Regions from separate parts of the Homo sapiens genome. Here region 2 is linked to region 1. Evidence: fine-mapped expression QTL. Tissue or cell type: fibroblasts. Region 1 holds a variant in brackets; the other region holds the start of a gene. All regions are shown on one strand. Distances are between the middles of the regions.

Region 1 (10,092 bases):
TGATTCTATTTCATGGACCGAAGCATTGCCCAATTGTAGAATTGCAATAAAGCCAACTGAGATCTTTAAATTGGCTATAATTCATCCTTTGGCAATACAGTAAAAAAAAAAAATTCTCACAATTCTGTAGAAGGGTATGAGATATACAATAAAAGACACCCCCACCCTCTGCAATCTACCACTCACAGTAGTTTATCTGGTGGTTTCCACTTTTTAACAATGGTCTGGGCCAGGTGCAGTGACTCACTCCCGTAATCCTAGCACTTTGGAAGGTCGAGGCGGGCAGGTTGCCTGAGCTCAGGAGTTCAAGACCAACCTGGGCAACACAGTGAAACCCCTGTCTCTACTAAAATACAGAAGAAATTAGCCGGGTGTGGCGGCATGCGCCTGTAGTCCCAGCTACTCGTTTGGCTGAGGCAGGAGAATTGCTTGAACCCATGAGGCAGAGGTTGCAGTGAGCCGAGATCATGCCGCTGCACTCCAGCCTGGGTGACAGAGCGAGACTCTGTCTCTAAAAAAATAAATAAATAAAATTTAAAAATAAAATAATGCTCAGTAGGCCAGGCACGGTGGCTCATGCCTGTGATCCTAGCACTTTGGGAGGCCAAGGCAGGTGGATCACCTGAGGTCAGGAGTTTGAGACCAGCCTGGCCAATATGGTGAAACCCCTTCTCTACTAAAAATACAAAAATTAGCCAGGCGGGGTGGTGTGGGCCTGTGGTTCCAGCTACTTGGGAAGCTGAGGCAGGAGAATTGCTTGAACCTGGGAGGCGGAGGTTGCAGTGAACCAAGATTGTGCCACTGCACTCCACCTCTGGGCGATAGAGTGAGACTCTGTCTCAAAAATAAATAAAATAAAATAAAAATGGCCTGTATTATTTTTATTCATCATCTTCAGTAAGACCTCTCCACTCATCACCATAAAGATGAGGACATTATGGCACATACTTACCCTTTCTCCTTCCCAGCCACAACTTCTAATTTTTCTTAGTTACATTATTATTTTTATATAGTTTAAAAAAGGGTATCACATTTACGCACTGCTCTGTAATCATGTAATCCTAAAGCTTCCTCTGCTGTGAGTTGATTTAGAAAGTTAAAAACTAGTAAACAGCATTTACAGATTGATGGGGAAATCAACATTATTCCCTATGGAAACAAGTAGTGTGTGATCAGAGCTGGGTCATTAAAACTTTACCACTAGAAGGAAAATTTAAGGTTCCAGTCATTCTTTCCCTCCCCATAGCTTTTTTCATTTCTTCCTAGTCAGTTCATTTTCTCTTGAGAAGTAAAACCAAAATCCTAAGCCCCATGACGGACTGAATGGATGTCCTATCCTGTTGGCCAAGGAGAGCCCGGGACGGCATCTGGAGGTGGGACACACCTCCTTATACCCCCGCCCTCCCTAGCTTCCAGTAGGCATTCTTTCCTAAAATCTAAACAGAAACCAGACCTTTGGAAAGCCTGGCTTCACCGCTGATTTCCACCAACTCCCCCTCCCTTTTGCCATTTCACCACAACAACCAACATGCATTCCTTCCTGATAAGAGGCCACCCACCACTGAATGGTTCTGGCCAGTTTACAACGGATGTGCAGGGAGGGTTTTCATATCCTCCCCTTCGCCTTTTGACATCAGAGGCCCAGAAGCTCCACCCTCAGATCATGGTAAGGACACCATGTTTTGTACAGGGGTCCCATGAAGGGGCATGAAGCTCAGTTGCGCAGGCACACGTTTCTCCTTTCATAGATATTAGTGACCCCTCCTACAGCTTATTAAATATATATATTTGGCCACCTGCTCAGCACACATTCTTTTTTCCTCTGCCCTTCCCTCAAAGTGCATGTTTTCAGCTACTGGCTGGAGGCTACACTTTCCAGCCTGTCAGAGTGGCCACCTGCAGCATGCAACTCTTTATGTGAAATAAAGCTGTCCTCTCCAAATTTATGAACCTCATCATTCTTCTCTTGACTCTTTTTTTTTTTTTTTAAGACAGTCTCACTCTGTTGCCCAGGCTGGCGTGCAGTGGTGCGATCTCAGCCCACTGCAACCTCCACCTCTGGGTTCAAGTGATTCTCCTGCCTCAGCCTCCTGAGCAGCTGGGATTACAGGTACCCGCCACCACTCCCGGCTAATTTTTGTATTTTTGGTAGAGATGGGATTTCACCATGTTGGCCAGGCTGGTCTCGAACTTCTGACCTCATGATTTGCCCACCTCTGCCTCCCAAAGTGCTGGGATTACAGGCGTGACCCACCATGCCCAGCCACTTGACACTCTTAACCCATGTCCTCATTTTTAGACTCCTAATCCACCAGCAAGTTCTGCCAATTCTGTCTCTAAAATATATCATAAATCTATCCATTTTTTTTTCTGCTACCATTTTGATTTATCATTGCTGACCTGAACTTCTTGGAATTCTGAGATCAAGGTCCTGGCAGGTAGGGTCAGTGTCTTCAGAGGACTCTTTCCTTGGCCACTTTCTCCCTGTGTGTTCACATGGTCTTACCTCTGTGTGTGTCTGTATCTGCGTCCTAATCTCCTCTTATGAGGACACCAGTCATGTTGAGTTAGGGCCCATCCTCATGACCTCTTTTTTTTTTTTTTTTTTTTTGAGATGGAGCCTCTCTCCATCACCCAGGCTGGAGTGCAGTGGCGCGATCTCAGCTCGCCACAACCTCTGCCTCCCAGGTTCAAGTGATTCTCCTGCCTTAGCCTCCTGAGTAGATGGGATTACAGGTGCATGCCACCACACCCAGCTAATTTTTGTATTTTTAGTAGAGATGGGGTTTTGCCATGTTGACCAGACTGGTCTCAAACTCTTGACCTCAGTTGATCTGCCCACTTTGGCCTCCCAAAGTGCTGGGATTATAGGAATGAGCCACTTTGCCTGGCCCTCTTGACCTCATTTTAACTTATTACTTCTTTAAAGACCCTATTTCCAAATAGTCACATTCTGAGATATTGGGCGTTAGGACTTTAAGAACTTTGGGGGAATACATTTCAGCCCATAACACCACCCTTCTTTTTTTTTTAAGACGCAGTCTCGCTCTGTCACCCAGGCTGGAGTGCAGTGGAGCAATCTCAGCTCACTGCAAGCTCCGCCTCCCGGGTTCACGCCATTCTCCTGCCTCAGCCTCCCAAGTAGCTGGGACTACAGGCGCCCGCCATCACGCCCGGCTAATTTTTTGTATTTTTAGTAGAGACGGGGTTTCACCGTGTTAGCCAGGATGGTCTCGACCTCCTGACCTCGTGATCCGCTCGCCTCAGCCTCCCAAAGTGCTGGGATTACAGGCGTGAGCCACCGTGCCCAGCCAACACCACCCAACAAAAATTCACCACCCATCTACTCATCCAAACCCTCTAATGGTTCCCATTGTGCATAGAATAAAATAAAAAACCCCTGCCTTGACTTTACGTGGGTAAAGGGAAAGGGAAAGCTTTCCCCTTGGCCTCCTGAAGTTTCACTGGAAAATCAACTTGCAAAAGGCAGATTAGTGGGTAAAAAGGCATACAAGTTTATTTGCTGTATATTCACAGGGTATATACACAGGGTATTTACAAATTTGCTGTGTATTACTCAGTGCAACCACTGAGTAATTAATTGCTCACCCCGCAAGGTGGTGCCTAAGTGTATATGTCATCCTGGCAAAACAGATTATGGGAGTGGGGGAAGAGGAGTTCTGTTGAGGGGATTTTTAGGGAGAATGGATGGATTAGGGAACAGATATTAACGTGTACATTATCTTGTGAAAAGGTCTGTTCAAGTGTGGCTACACTGTTGGTTTTACAGGAAAGGGAAGAAAAAAGAGTCGTCCTTGATGTGCCTTACTTAGTGTGTCTGGATCTCAGGCAGATAAAGAAACTGTAACTTCTTTGGGAAAGATGGGGTGAGGGAGAAGGTCAGAGAAACCTTGAGTGTTCTTCGCTTCAGTATGTCAAAGCACCATATTTTGGGGTATCGGTTTCCGAGCCCCAACAACTTACAAATTCTTATATGCTCTCACTTTTGCCAATCTCTGCATCTGGGCCAGTACCCAATCCCCCCCTCCTTTTTTTTTTTTTTTTTTGAGACAGAGTCTTGCTCTGTCACCCAGGCTGGAGTGCAGTGGCACGATCTCGGCTCACAGCAACCTCCACCTCCCGGATTCACGCCATTCTCCTGCCTCAGCTTCCTGAGTAGCTGGGACTACAGGCACCCACCACCACGCCCGGCTAATTTTTTGTATTTTTACTAGAGACAGGTTTCACCGTGTTAGCCAGGATGGTCTCGATCTCCTGACCTCGTGATCCTCCCGCCTCGGCCTTCCAGAGTACTAGGATTACAGGCGTGAGCCACCGCGCCCGGCCTTTTTTTTTTCAAATGCGGTAATGTATCACTTAACGATGGGGACAGATTCTGAGAAATGTGCTATTAGGCAATTTTGTTGTGTGAGCATCAGAGAGTGTACTTGCACAAACCTGGATGGTAGAGCCTACTCCACACACAGGCTATATGGTGTAGCCTATTGCTCCTAGGCTCCAAACCTGTATGGCACATTACTGTCCTGAATACTGTAATGCCAACTGTAATGCAATGGACGTATTTGTGTTTCTAAACATAGAAAAGGTACAGTAAAATTAGGGAATGAAAGATAAAAAATAGGGCCAGGTGAAGTGGCTCACGCCTGTAATCCCAGCACTTTGGGAAGCTGAGGCGGGTGGATCACCTGAGGTCAGGAGTTCAAGACCAGTCTGGCCAACATAGCGAAACCCTGTCTCTACTAAAATTACAAAAAATGAGCCGGGCATGGTGGTGCATGCCTGTAATCCCAACTACTCAGGAGGCTGAGGCAGGAGAATCACTTGAACCAGGGAGGTGGAGGTTGGAGTGAGCCAAGATGGCGCTACTGCACTCCAGCCTGGGTGACAGAGCGAGACTCCATCTCAAAACAATAATTAAAAAAAAAAAAAAGGATTAAAAAAAGAACACCTGTATAGGGGCTTTCCATCAATGGAACTTGCAAAACTGGAAATTTCTCTGAGTGAATCAGTGGGTGAGTGGTGAGTGAATGTGAAGGCCTAGGATATTACTGTCCATTACTGTAGACTTTAAACATTGTACACTTAGGCTACACTAAATTTACTTTAAAAATTTTGGCCAGCCATGTTGGCTCACGCCTGTAAACCCAGAAGAGGCAGGAAGATCCCTTAAGCCCAGGAGTTCAAGACCAACCTGGGAAAATGGCGAGATTCCCATCTCTACAAAAATAGAAATAAAAAATTAAAAATGTTCTTTCGTCAGTAATAAATTACCCTTAGCTTACTGTAACATTTTTACTTTATAAACATTTTAATTTTTTAATTTTTTGCCTCTTTTATAATAACAGTTGTTTAAAACAAAACAACGTACAAAGGTACAAAAACATTTTTATAGCCTTATTCTAGAGGTTTTTTCCCACTTTTACAACTCTTTTGTTAAAAACTAAGACACAAACATACACATTAACCTAGGCCTACACAGGGTCAGACTCATCAAGGTTGTCGCTAGGTGATAGAAATTTTTCAGGTTCATTATAATCTTATGGTACCATCATCACATGAGCAGTCCATCATCGACCATACTCTAAACTTAGCTCCTGCCTCATTTGCATTTGCTAGTCTCACTGCATAGAACCTTCCTACTCATTCAATTAAGAAACACTTTTAGAGCAATGCCCTGTGTCAAGCACTGCTCTACATTGAGAAAGTGGCTCAGAGCAGTCTGAGGAATGTGAGATATGCAAAATTGGTTAGGCCCAGACAGGAGCAGGAGACACCTGTCACATCCTCGGCACCCATGCCTGGGGGTAATTGCTTAGAGGCATTTTGTTTTCTCTTTC[G/C]TTTTCTGTAATTTCAGACTAGCTGATAAATTACCCACAATGTTACCACAAGTTACACAATGTGACCCTCACCTATTATCTTCACGTTCCTGGGGTTTGTGGTACAAAGATCAATGTATAGACAAATGATAGCTTATTTTAATGAACCATTGTAAATTCTTGGTAAGCAGCTTAGGAACTGCATCCTAACTTTTTCATCTTTTTTTTAATCTTTAATCCACTTGTAACGGCTGCTAATCGGAGCATATATTCAGGGCAACTTGAATCCATGACTCCCAGGCTGTAGACCTCAACCCTGGCCCAAATAGACTCTCTACTTATATTAATTTTGCTTCAGTTTCTTCCTTTAGGTCAACAAGATGAACAGTCTTCCCAGCTGGGCTATACGTACCTCGGGGTACAGGAAGTCCTGTACAACTTACAAATTCCTATATGCTCTCACTTTTGCCAGTCTCTCCACCTGGGCTAGTACCCAATTCCCCCCTTTTTTTGGTTGGGAGATTTGGAAGTCCTGTACCCTGAGGTGCATATAGCACAGTTGGGAAGACCCTTCAAAGGGATCTGTGGGCCCAGATATACTAGGGAAATCCTGAATTTTTGTATACTCTTTTCTAAAATTGATTGGCCTGCAAACTCAGTTTTCCAATTCTCCTTTTACATCTCCCCTTCCACAAAGAAAAGCATAGCACCCTTTTCCATTGCCTGTCGTGGGTAGCGACTCTCTGGGGCCCGTGTCACGCAGGTGGTAAAAAGAATTCATCAATACAGTTGTAGGTAAAGAAAGGCAGATTTATTAGACAAAGCAGGAAAGTATGTTGCAAGGGTGCAACAAGCAAATCAGCAAGAGAGGAGCTGACTGCCAGGAAACAAACGTTTGCTCGGGATTTGACAGAATGGTGCTTGGGCTGTGTGTTAAGAGGGCTTTGTGCAGTACTGATAGTGCTGAGGTTGCAGTGAGCTAACTTGCATTTTTCTATCAGCTGAGGTGTCTGGTAATAGCTGGGTGCAGGAAGATGGTGAGTAATTTGCACAGGAGGACTATGTATCCTGAACCACGAAGAAAGGTAGACTTATAGCTTACCTGCCTTTTCTTTTTGCTTTCCTTCATCCTTACCAGCCCAACTCCCCCTCCCTAAATTAGGACTCCACATTGCCTGGGTGTAAACTAACAGGAATTGAACAAGGGACACTTCTAGAACATATTTTTCCTTTTCTTTTTGAAAACACTTTCTTTATATATATATATAGATATATTTTTTTATTATACTTTAAGTTCTAGGGTACATGTGCGCAACGTGCAGGTTTGTTACATATGTATACATGTGCCATGTTGGTGTGCTGCACCCATTAACTCGTCATTTACATTAGGTATATCTCCTAATGCTATCCCTCCCCCCTCCCCCCACCCCACAACAGGCCCCGGTGGGTGATGTTCCCCTTCCTGTGTCCAAGTGTTCTCATTGAAGAACCTATTTTTCCACAGGGCATATCCTTGAGCGCTAAACAAAGAGGGCTTAGTAAAATGATTGACTGTTTTTATTTCCTCCTTTATCTTGAAGATAGAGATCTATCTGCCTATCCCTTTGTCTATCCACCAGCTTGTCCATCCCTCCCTCCATCTTTCTCAGAACTTAGAAATAAGGTATCAGAGTGATGTAACCACCCAGTGGATTCTTCCTGCCTGCTGCACAACAAAATTGACTCATGGGCACCATGGCATTGCAATAAAGAAAGTTTAATTGACACAAGTCTGGCCACACAGTGTAAGAGACGGAGTTATTACTCAAATCAATCTCCCTGAAGGCTCCTAGGTTAGGGGTTTTTCAAATATAGTTTGCTGGGCAGTGGGGTAGGGTAGGGAACATGCTAACTGGTTGAGTTGGAGATGAAATCATAAGAAATCGAAGCTGTCCTCTTGTGCTGAGTCAGTTCCTGGGTAGGGGCCACAGGACTGACTGGTGGGTCCAGGTGGGGCCACCCGGTTGTCAGAAATGCACAAACCTGAAAAGACATCTCAAAAGGCCAATCTTAGGTTCTACAATAGTAATGTTATCTGCAAGAGTTATTGCAGAAGTTGCAAATCTGACCTCCAGAATAATGGCTGACAATTATTTAGAATTCAAGTCCCTCTCATTCTCATAGTTTAGTTGCCTTGCATTAGTTTTACAAGAACACTTTGATTTTGGGGAAGGGCTAATATCATTTCAACTATAAACTAAATTTTCCACAAAGTTAGCTTGGCCCATGCCCAGAAATGAGCAAAGACAGACAGCCTGTGAAGCAAGATGTCAAATTTCTCTTACTGTCATAATTTTGCAAATGCCATTTCAGGAACATGCACAGTAGTCCCCCCTACTTATGTGCTCAAGATATTAAGTGGAAAATTACCAATTCATAGGCTTAAATAACCAATTCAGAAATAACCAATTCATAGGTCTTAAAATGCATGCCATTTCTTGGTAGCATGATGAAATCTCCACCGTCCCATTCTGTCTTGCCCAGGATATGAATCCCCCCTTGCCCAACAAATTCATGCTGTCTACACTACCCACCCATTAGTCACTTATTAGCCCTCTGAATTACTGGATTGAAAAAACATAGTATATATATAGGGCTTGGTACTATTCACGGTTTCAGGCATCCACTGAGGGGTGTTGCAATGTATCTCCCACGGATAAGGAAGGACTGGTATATTAACACTTTTATTTGATTTACAAAATAAAGGATAGTTTATATAGTTCTGGGTAAAATTAATTAATTAATTTAAAAGGAAAAAAGATAAAGGCAAACTTTAAGCTTGTTAAAAATTAAGTAAAATAATTTGGATTATTTAATTGGACAAAGAGGACTGGCTTTGCCAATGAAACAATATGGCCGACATGTTCCATAAATTGGACAAGCTAAACTTGCAAATCCACAGTTTTGACGAAAATATAGTGAGAGCACTTATGAAACATCATGCCAGAAAATAATCCATTCCCAGAAGTTGTGAAAAGAGTTTTTAGATGTCTTTTTTTTTTTTTTTTTTTTTTTTTTGAGACAGAGTCTCACTCCGTTGCCCAGGCTGGAGTGCAGTGGCCAGATCATGGCTCACTGCAACCTCAAACTCTTGGGTTTAAACAATCCTGCCTCCTAAGTCTCCTATATAGCTGGGACTACAGGTGCACACCACCATGCCTGGCTAATGTTTTGTATTTTTGGTAGAGACGATGTTTCACCATTTTTTCCAGGCTGGTCTTGGACTCCTGGGCTCAAGAAATCTGCCTGCCTCAGCCTCCCAAAGTGCTAGGATTACAGACATGAGCCACTGTGCCTAGCTCGATGTCAACTTTTAAAAGTATACACTGGGATATGAATTTTTAAAATACTTTTATGAGGCACGGAAGCGAAAACGTTTAGAGTGCTACTTTCTAAGTTCTGGAGTCATAGAGAAGAGTGAACAAGATAATTAAGGTCCCTGCCCTCTTAGAACATATATCCCAGGTTTGCTGTTTATAATTTTAACTCAATATATATACAATGAAATATTATTCAGCCTTATAAAAGAAAACCCTGTTATGGGTGACAACATAGATGAACCTGGAGAACATTATGTTGGTGCAATAAGCCGGGCACAGAAAGACAAATACTACATTAGCCCATGTATATGTGTAATCTAAAAAATTCAGATTCATAGAAGCAGAGCATAGAATGGTGGTTGTCAGGGCTTCAGAGGTAGGAAAGATGGGAGATGTTGCTCAAAGTTACAAAGTTTCAGTTAGGCGGGATGAATAGATTCTAGAGATGTAATGTATATTGTATACTTGCAGTTTTCGTTTTCGTTTCGTTTTGTTTGTTTTTAAATAGAGAGAGAAAAGGTCTCACTCTGTCATCCAGGCAGAGTACAGTGGCATGATCATGGCTCACCGCAGCCTCAAATTCTTGGGCTCAAGTGATCCTCCCACCTCAGCCTCCTATATACCAGGGACTACAGGCACATGCCACCATGCCCGGCTATTTTTCCATTTTTTTGTAGAGACGAGGTCTTAGCTGTTTCCCAGGATGAGAATAGATCTTAAATGTTCACAGCACACACGCGCGCGCGCGCGCGCGCACACACACACACACACACACATGCAAATGATAACTGTATGAGATGAAGGTTATGTTAATTATTTTGGTTGTGGTAATCATTTCAGAATGTATACATATATCAAAACATTACGTTGTACATCGTTATGATATACAATCTTTG
Region 2 (10,092 bases), 49 kb after region 1:
GAACTTGGGAGGAGGAGGTTGCAGTGAGCTGAAATCACACCACTGCACTCCAGCCTGGGTGACAGAGGGGGACTCCATCTCAAAAAAAAAAGAGAAAGAAAAAGGTACAAACATACAGTAAGATAGGAGGAACAAATTCAATGCTTGATAGCTGAGCAGGGTGATGATACTTAATAAAAATGTACTGTACTCCCATGATGGATACTTTAAATACCGACTTGATCACTGTGCCTTATACATGTCACAAAACTTCTCATGTACCCCATACATTTGTACAAATCAAAAAAATACTTGGTCGCATTATAGAAATTTCACTGGTTAATGAGAGTACATGGGGTCATCTAAAGTAAAACAATTTTTTGCTTTGTTTTGTTGCTTGGTTTGCTTTGCATTTTCATACCAGTTTAATTACATAAATATACATGGTGCTTATAAAATGTAATGGATTGAAGGGGAGCACAGTTAAACTCACTGTAATTTTTGTGGGGATTTTAGATTGTAGGAGTTTGATAGCTTGTATATATATATATATATATATATATATATATATATTTTTTTTTTTTTTTTTTTTTTTTTTTTTTTTTTTTTTGAGATGGAGTCTCACTCTGTCACCCAGGCTGGAGTGCAGTGGCACGATCTTGGCTCACTGCAAGCTCCACCTCCCAGGTTCACACCATTCTCCTGCCTCACCCTCCCCAGCAGCTGGGACTACAGCTGCACGCCGCCACGCCCAGCTAATTTTTTGGTATTTTTAGTAGAGACGGGGTTTCACCGTGTTAGCCAGGATGGTCTCGATCTCCTGACCTTGTGATCCGCCCGCCTCGGCTTCCCAAAGTGCTGGGATTACAGGTGTGAGCCACCACGCCCGGCCAGAATTTTTTTTTTATGTATTGAGATGGGGTCTCACTATGTTTTCCAGGTTGGTCTCGAACTCCTGAGCTCAAGTGATCCACCCACCTCAGCCTCCCAAAGTGCTAGGATTACAGGCATGAGCCACTACGCCCAGCCCAAATTTCAGATTCTTATTCTATAAAATGAAGAATTACAGAGAATTTCTAAGGTGTCTTGTGGAAAGAAGACCTTTGCAAAAGTAGGCCAGCTAAGCTTTTTGAGCATTTCCTGAATGGCAGCCACTAATTCTACAGTGGGGAATGGAGTAAGAGTCTGAGCCACCAAGAGACGAAGTGTCCCCCAGCAGAAGTAATGGCCAAACAATAATGACATCCCAAATAAGGGATTTTAGCTACTTTCCAAGTCCCAGAGGCTACAAAAAGGGAGAAGATTCTCTTTTTCTAATTAATTAACCAGCTATATTAGATATATTATTGGGAGTTGACTAAGATTGTGAGTTTTAGTCGTGTTAGGAAGGAGGTATTATATTTTGTCTTGACGAGTAAATTTAAATATATGCACGCCAAACAGTAAATTTCACCTGAGGTGTTTGTGTTTGGTGCACTGATCCAGGTGTGCCAGCTGGCATTATGCAGTAGACACCTAGGTAAAAACATTTACTGTTCCCCAGTTATGGCACCCACATATCTCAGCTGCCTTTCAGCTAGGCAGGGCATGTGACTGGCTTTGGCCAGTCATCAGCCAGGAGGCTGAAGTGGGAGAATTGCTTGAGCCTGGGAGATCAAGGCTGCAATCCGTGGTGAGTAGAAATGATTGTGTCAAAGTCCAGACTAAACATACAAAAAGGTTGTGAGTTCTCTGCACTCTATTCTTCAGCAGTACAGTGGAGGCCCTCTTTTTTCTCATGTTGCAGCCACAAGATGTTGGGGCCTGAGTTCTTCAGTGGCTGTGTGGTGCAAACCTCCCGCTGACTCTCAGTGGACATAAAACATAAGAAATCTAAACATAGCTGTATTAATACATTGAGATTTTGGAGTTCTATGTTACTGCATCATAGCCCAACTCCTCTTGAGCAAATATAGCTGCACCTGTCACTGGGGTGGAGATCAGATCCCTACAGTCAGTCACCTTTGGAGGTGGACCATGGCTTAGAGAAAACAAGTTTCTTCATGCATGGATGCTTAAAGTATAATGAGAATGGAGATGGGGTTATAGAGTATTACCTCTGGTTTCATGTCAATCATGGCTAGTTACTCCTTGGGCAATTTGTTGGAATGGTTCTGTGAGAAAATAAGCAAAATTCCTCATGCATTTTTTAAGTCTATGGGAATGATTGATGTGCACTATGTCTACTACTGAGGCCTAGTCACAGATGTAATTATGATCATTACTTTAGGGCACATCTTCTGGAATAACAAGTCAATTGTAAACAAAAGTATACATGGTGCCAAGTGTGGAGGCTTGTGCCTAGAATTCCAGCAACTCAGGAGGCTGAGGCAGGAGGATGGCTTGAGGCCAGGAGTTGGAGACCAGCTTGGGCAACATAATGAGGTCTCATCTCTACAAAAAGTAAAAAAAAAAAAAAAAAAAATTGCCAGGCATGATGGTTTATACCTATATAGAAAGAAACCTGGCTGGCCACTGTGGCTCACACCTGTAATCCCAGCACTTTAGGAGACTGAAACAGGAGAACTGCTTGAGTCCAGGAGTTTGAGACAAGCCTGGGCAACATAGTGAGGCTCCATCTCTATAAAGAATAAAATTTTAGCCTGGTGTGGTGGCACACACCTGTAGTCCCAACTACTCAGGAGGCTGAGGTGGGAGGATTGCTTGAGCCTGGGAGATCAAGGCTGCAATAGCCATGATTGTGCCACTGCACTCAGCTTGGGTGACAGAGTGATACCCTATCTTAGAATAAAAAAAGAAAAAATAAAGCCCTTTTCTTTATAAATTACCCAGTCTCAGGTATAGAAACAAATTAAGACAGTGGATTAATGCCCCAGCCTCCAACCTGCAGTAGAACAATTCTGAGATGCCTTCCACACAGTTTCTCAGAATACTCACAGCAATTGAGCTCCCATTGTCCACTGTGGTCATCTACTCATTAATCTACCCTCTTTTTTTTTTTTTTTTTTTTTTTGAGACAGGGTCTCCCTCTGTCACCTAAGCTGGAGTGTAGTGGTGTGAGTTCAGCTCACTGCAGCCTTGATCTCCCAGGCTCAAGCGACCCCTCCAGCTCAGCCTCCTCAGTAGCTGAGGTACTACAGGTACTACAGTGACTACAGGTACTACAGTGACTACAGGTACACACCATGACACCTGGCTAAGTCTTGTTTATTTTTGTAGAGACAGGGTCTTGCTATCATGCTAGGACTGGTCTTGAACTCGTGGGCTCAATCAATCCTCCCACCTTGGCCTCCCAAAGTGCTGGGATTACAGGTGTGAGGCACTGTGCCCAGTTCTTTCTTAACCTTTCTATCTTCTCTATCTCATTTTTGCCTCCCCAACATGTGCTTCCTGGGATCACCTCACAAACCAATTGGACTCAAGGCTTTGTCTCAGGATCTCTATTATTCAAGGTTCTCCAAAGACACAGGCCTGTAGGATATATATATGTGTGTATATATAGGATATATATTGGCTCATGTGATTGTGGAGACCAGCAGGTCCAAAATCCGCAGGGCCAATGTCCCAGTCCAAAGGTTGTCAGGCAGAAAGAGCTGATGTGCCAGTTGAAAGGCCCTTGGGCAGGAGAATTCTCTCTTCCGTGGGGAAGGTCAGCATTTTGCTTTATTTCTGCCTTCAACTGATTAGATGAGGCCCAGCCACATCGTAGACGGCAATCAGCTTTACTCAATATACCAATTTAAATGTTAATCTCATCAAAAAACACCCTCACAGAAACACTCAGAATACTATTTGACCAAATATCTGGGCATCCCATGGCCCAGTAAAGTTGACACATAAAATTAACCCTCACAGACACCAAGTGTAGTTCATCATTTTGGAAAATATTCACCTTATAGCAAGAATGGAAACCTCTAAGTAGAGTATTTTATGTGAACCATTCAACCTCAGGAATCATACATTTCACTCACTGATCCCTTGTTCACATTCCAGTGTATAAAACTCTGGTCCCCATTAAGGAGACACTCCAGTCCTCAGGGAAAATCAGACCTGGCACTGTCGTCCATGAGTATGAGACGGGAAGAGCTGTGGTCCAGGATGGAACGGAAGTCATACTGCACATACCAGGTGTTCAGTAAATGCTCCGATCTTCAGGTGCGCGTTGTCTCTCTCTCTCTCTCTCTCGAGTAGACACTTAATTCAACTAACGGGAGGCTGGCCAGTTGTTTCACCACCTATCCTACTTTCCCCAGCTCTTGTGTGGTTCCCAAAGCCCCTAGCAGTAGCCAAAACGGGGGCCCCAACTGCTGTCGCTGTCCCTGGTGCTGACTAAACCCTAAAGCCTCTGCGTTGCGGCCTTGGGGCCATTGGTGGTGCCGAGTTATTCTTTTATTTTCTTTCTGTTCTTTTCTTTTTTTCTTTTCTTCTCGTTGCTGCCCTTGGTGCTGCCCAATTATTCTTTTCTTTTCTTCTCCTCTCCCTCTCTCTCTTTTCTTTCTCTCTCTTTCTTTCTTTTTCTCTTTTTCTTTCTTTCCTCAAGAAAATGCTGCAGATTTAGAGAGTGACTTTGAAGCATAGACTAGACTTCGAGGATGAACATGACATTTTGGCTCTCTGTGTATCCCCATTCACACTGAAGAATCAACAACACTTCCTTGCTGATCAATAGTCCCAGAACTGGTGGCACAGCCAGGACCGACGCTGATGCTTACCTCCCCCTCTCCTGCAGCAGAGACGCCCCCGTCCCTGTGGCCCAGGGAAGTGCCAGGGATCCCTGGGAAGGCGGGAGATGGGGAAGGGGCAGGGTGAGCGAAGAGGAGCAGGCTGCGTCTGCACGCGGGCTGGGAAGCGGGGCTTCCGGGCCGCAGGGTCGCGGGGACGGGTGTGATGCAATCGCGCCACAGCCGCTGCGTCAAGGGGCGGCTCCGGGATGCGGGCACTGCGGTAGAGCCCGTCCTGCCCCCGCCGCCCGCCGCCCGCCGCCCGCCTCCGCTGCTAAACCCGCGGACAACCGCCGGGACGACCACCCAGAGCCACCAGAGCCCCCTGACACCCGCCCCGAGGCACCGGTAACCCACGGCACCCGCCCCGGTGCGTGCCATGAAGTCGGCCGCGAGCTCGCGCGGGGGCGGTGGGGGCGGCCGCGGGGGCGGCGGCTGGGGCAGCTGGGGCGGGGGCCGAGGCGGCGGCGGCGGCGCGGGCAAGGGCGGCGGGGGCGACGGCGGCGGCCAGGGGGGCAAGGGCGGCTTCGGGGCGCGGGCGCGCGGCTTCGGCGGGGGCGGCCGGGGCCGGGGGCGCGGCGGCGGCGACGGCAAGGATCGCGGCGGCGGTGGACAGCGGCGGGGCGGCGTGGCCAAGAGCAAGAGCCGCCGCAGGAAGGGCGCCATGGTGGTGTCGGTGGAGCCGCACCGGCACGAGGGCGTCTTCATCTACCGCGGGGCGGAGGACGCGCTGGTCACGCTGAACATGGTGCCGGGCCAGTCTGTGTACGGCGAGAGGCGCGTCACGGTGACCGAGGGCGGCGTGAAGCAGGAGTACCGCACGTGGAACCCGTTCCGCTCTAAGCTGGCCGCGGCCATCCTGGGCGGGGTGGACCAGATCCACATCAAGCCCAAGTCCAAGGTGCTGTACCTGGGCGCCGCGTCGGGCACCACCGTCTCCCATGTCTCCGACATCATTGGCCCAGACGGCCTGGTCTACGCCGTCGAGTTCTCCCACCGCGCCGGCCGCGATCTGGTCAACGTGGCCAAGAAGCGCACCAACATCATTCCGGTCCTGGAGGACGCGCGGCACCCGCTCAAGTACCGCATGCTCATCGGGATGGTGGACGTGATCTTCGCCGACGTGGCCCAGCCGGACCAGTCCCGCATCGTGGCCCTGAACGCCCACACCTTCCTGCGCAATGGGGGCCACTTTCTCATCTCCATCAAGGCCAACTGCATCGACTCCACCGCATCCGCCGAGGCTGTGTTTGCTTCTGAGGTGAGGAAGTTGCAGCAGGAGAACTTGAAGCCTCAAGAGCAGCTGACCCTGGAGCCCTATGAGCGGGACCACGCTGTGGTGGTCGGGGTCTACCGACCTCTTCCCAAGAGCAGCAGCAAATAGCACCCAGCTCAGGCTCGCCTGCCATCTCCCCAAGGCTGCGTTGTGTTTGCTATTATTTTCTGTGTGTTTTCTTTGTGAGTGTTTTGTTTTGTTGTTTTTCTATTAAACTGCATAAAGAAACGGCACCTATCTGTATGGTGATGCCAGGCTAGGTTTTGCTGCAGTAACAATCAACCCCCAAATCCCAGTGGCCTAAACCGGCTGGTATAAGGGGCCCATCCAGCAGTAGCCTGGGAGCTGTGCTCATTCTAATCACTCAGGTCTCCAACTCCCCAGGGCCCCATTTTCACACATGCTCCCCCCATCCCTAGGGCAGAGGAAAGAGAGCTGCGGAATTGCTAATAAAAGCTTTTAAATGTCCCCTTGGAACTGATGGGGCACTTCTGCTCACATTTGGCCAAGTCACATGACCCAGCCTGACTCGGGAAAAACACTGAATGTTGGTGGACAATAATATAGTCAAACACACCAATCATCTGACTCACAGCCAAAGTCTTAACCACAATAGGTTTTTAGTATTTTACTCTTCAACTAAGCCCTTTTGCATTCACTGTTAAAGTGAATAATAAATAAATGTTAAATTTATTCCTCACACCAGCCCTGAGATGGCTTTGTTAGCACTTGCATATTACATGTGAAGCAACAGGGCTTCTGAAGGTAAACTATTTTGCCCAAACGTACATAGCCAGTAAGGAGGTAGAACTTAAATGCCAGTCTTCGGGGCTCTAAATCCATTGCTGTTTCCTCAGCACCAGGGGGATCTTGTCTCTGGTCCCCAACCCCTATGGCATGTGCACAGGGACACACTTAGAGCAGGGCCCTGTGACCTTATTGTGTTCTTTCGCCCTCCCCTGTCCCCCCCGGGCTACCCCTTTGTTTGGTTTCACAATAGCAAAACAAGATGCGGGGCAGATGTGGGTCTAGCTAGCAGACTGTCTCTACTACAGGGCATAACATACCCAAAGTGGTATCACCAAGTGTCTGCAGAACAGGCAGACAAATTACTCCCAGAAAGTATCTGTCTTTGCAAGGCATGTCCTGCACTTCCCAAGTTGCTGGTCTCAGTACCTCGCAGTCTCTCTCCAAAGCAGCCCAAAGGGAAGGGAGAGTGGGTAATCCGAGGAAAGCTGAGAATGCCCCAAAGGCCCAGTAAATCCCTCCAAGCCAGACTTTTCATTCATTCATGCATGCATGCATACACACTCCCAACTGCCAAAAAGACCCACATCAACATTTAGTCTTTGAATGATTGCTCACTAATGTATCATTTGGAGGGTGGATTTGCCTTTCTAAAGATGTGCTTGGGCAGCAATTGTGGTTAGTCTGCTTTTTCTGAGGGCATACTTCTTGAACAACAACAAAGGATAAATCAGACTTTTTATTTTTGTTTTATTTTATTTATTTTATTTGAGACAGGTCTTGCTCTGTCGCCAAGGCTGGAATGCAGTGGCGCAATCATGGCTCACTGCAGCCTTGAACTCCTAGGCTTAAGTGATCTTCCTGCCTCAGCCTACCACACCTGGCTAATTTAAAAAAAAAATGTTTGTGGAGAAACAGTGTCTCGCTTTGTTGCCGAGGCTGGTCTTGAACTCCTTGCTTCAAGAAATCCTCCTGCCTCAGACTCCCACACTGGGATTAGAGGCGTGAGCTATGGCACCTGGTCCAAATCAGACTTTTGAAAAGGCTGCCACTCTTTCACCACTCCCCCATCCTACGCCACCCCAAAATTCAGAAAGGGAATTACAGTTCAGATGTATCAGCAAGACTGACTCAGGAAGAAGAGAGTGAATGCCGTACATGTCTATTTCCATAAACAATGGAAATCTTCATTACAACCCTGCAAAGCCAGGATCACTTTTCCTATTTAGCATATAAGAACACTGCAGTTCAGAGATGAAAGTGCCTGGTTTAAGATCCCCCAGAAAGGCTCACAGCCAGAAATCACAGCTTTGTTAGTCTGACTCCAAAACCTATGTCATTTTCACTGAAGTCTGTGCTGGTTCTGTTGCCTTGAAAAGCCCTCTCTCCAATCCTAGGCTAATTTATTAGTTGCTGTGATGAAGCCCTGAGGCTGGGGTGGACTCCCTGGGAACAGGAACTGTTTCCTCACTAGGGGAAGACAGAAGCAGCTGGGTACTCAGGAGGGAGGGGCTCTGCAGCAGCTGAGGCCCATGACCCAGCCCCTCCTCAGAGCCAGATGGGCTCCATAAAGGAGCTCTTGATTGCTCCTTAAAGGTTTTTCCCCCCAGCATGGGGGATGAAGCAGGGGAAACTCTACCTCCTTCCTTGGCATGGGAACTCCCATTCCCTGCCCCTCCTGCCGCAAGTGAAATTTAAAGTCATGTCTGAAGCTTCTCAAAGAGGGAACCATTCATGAGGAAATGGCAACAAAACAATCTCCTGAAGAATTTCCCTGCATTGCAGATGAGTTCCTGAGCCAATGGAATGACATGGTGAGTACCAGGAAAAATATAGGAATAAGGGCCAAGGGAATACAGGAAGGGAGCTGGAACCTGGTTTTAGAGGATGATGGCAGGGAAAAGAATGGGACTATAGTCTGGGCACAGTGGCTCATGCCTGTGATCCCAGCACTTTGGGAGGCCAAGGCACATGGATAACTTGAGTCCTTGAGTCGAGACTAGCCTGGTCAACATATGAAACCCCATCTCTACTAAAAATACAAAAAATAGCTGGTGGCGGGCAACTGTAATCCTAACTTCTTGGGAGGCCGAGGCAGAAGAATCGTTTGAACCTGGGAGGTGGAGGTTCCAGTGAGCTGAGATCATGTCACTGCGAGACTCTGTCTAAAAAAAAAAAAAAAAATTATCGGACTGTAACTCCAGTGGGCCTTGGGTCCCAAGAAACCTAGAAGTAGCAGTGACCCTGGTTAACAGACCTGCTCAGAGCCAGGAATGCTTCAGTGACTATCAGCTTGGGTTCCAAGAAGCCTTTACATTTGGGTCTCTAGGTATATTAGTCTTCTCAGGCTGTTGTAACAAAATACTACATGCTAGGTGGCTTAAACAACAGATACTCATTTTCTCACTATTCTGGATGGAGGCTAGAAGTCCAATATCAAGGTGCTGGAATTCAGTTTCTGGTGAGGACTCTCTTCCTGGCTTGTAATCGGCCACCTTCTTGCTGTGTCATATATGTGGCCTTTCCTCTGTTCACACACAGTGAGAAAGAGAGAGCTCTTTGGTGTTTCTTCCCCTGTTTAGAAGGATACCAATCCTGCTGGATTAGGATCCTACTCTTAGGACCTCTTTTAACCTTAATTACCTCCTTAGGGCCCTATCCCCAAATATAGTAACACTGGGGATTGGGGCTTCAATTTGTGAATTTTCTGGGACACAATTCGGTGCATAACCCTAGGGTTAGATGAGAATGTTCAGCTAAAATGACTGTCTTACTGGATTGTGAGCTTTGGCTGAGGAGACCAGTGTTTAATGTGAAAATACCTGCCAACAGCCTGGCACTAAGTGCTCTGCCTGTTTTTTTCCCCCCACCTCTTACTGTCAATAGAGAATAATAAGGTGGCTGAGAATTAAGTTTAAGACCGGGCGTGGTGGCTCACCCCTGTAATCCTACAACTTTGGGAGGCTGAAACGGGCAGATTGTCTGCGCTCAGGAGTTCAAGACCAGCCTGGGCAACACAATAAAACCCCATCTCTACTAAAATAGAAAAGAAATTAGCTGGGCATGGCGGCGTGCACCTGTAGTCCCAGCTACTTGGGAGGCTGAGGCAGGAGAATTGCTTGAACCTAGGAGGCAGAGGTTGCAATGAGCCGAGAATGCACCACTGCACTCCAGCCTGGGTGACAGAGTGAGACTCCGTCTCTTAAAAAAAAAAAAAAAAAAAAGTTTAAAACGGGCCCAGCACAGTGTTCAGGCCTGTAATCCCAGCACTTAGGGAGGCTGAGGCAGGAGAATCGCTGGAACCCAGGAAAGTGGAGGTTGCAGTGAGCTGTGATCACACCACTACACTCCAGCCTGGGCAACAGAGCA

Which allele goes with the higher level. Alleles are on the strand shown, and positions count from the first base shown. SD is a standard deviation of normalised expression in the study named.
In carriers of allele C in region 1, the expression in fibroblasts of the gene that starts at base 4,880 in region 2 tends to be higher than with G alone (large effect, 0.75 SD a copy in GTEx).

Evidence for each region. PIP is the estimated chance that this variant, and not a neighbour inherited with it, causes the effect.
Region 2: FBLL1 starts here. The variant in region 1 is fine-mapped to the expression of FBLL1 in fibroblasts (GTEx, PIP above 0.99). The same link has a PIP of 0.9 or more in T cells, esophagus mucosa, lung, ovary, spleen and thyroid.

The regions. Positions count from the first base shown.
Region 1 is chr5:168,475,778-168,485,869 of GRCh38, forward strand. No RefSeq gene overlaps it. Among named protein-coding and RNA genes, the nearest start is that of RARS1, 5.6 kb to the right of the region's middle. RefSeq lists an enhancer at 5,844-5,953. The variant G/C (reference allele first, on the strand shown) is at 5,859.
Region 2 is chr5:168,524,426-168,534,517 of GRCh38, forward strand. It overlaps FBLL1 (fibrillarin like 1), which reads left to right and starts at 4,880. Exons shown (of 1, transcript NM_001355274.2): 1 at 4,880-6,209. The coding sequence starts at 5,080. The coding sequence ends at 6,084. RefSeq lists a silencer at 4,039-4,333 and enhancers at 5,187-5,728, 6,584-6,753.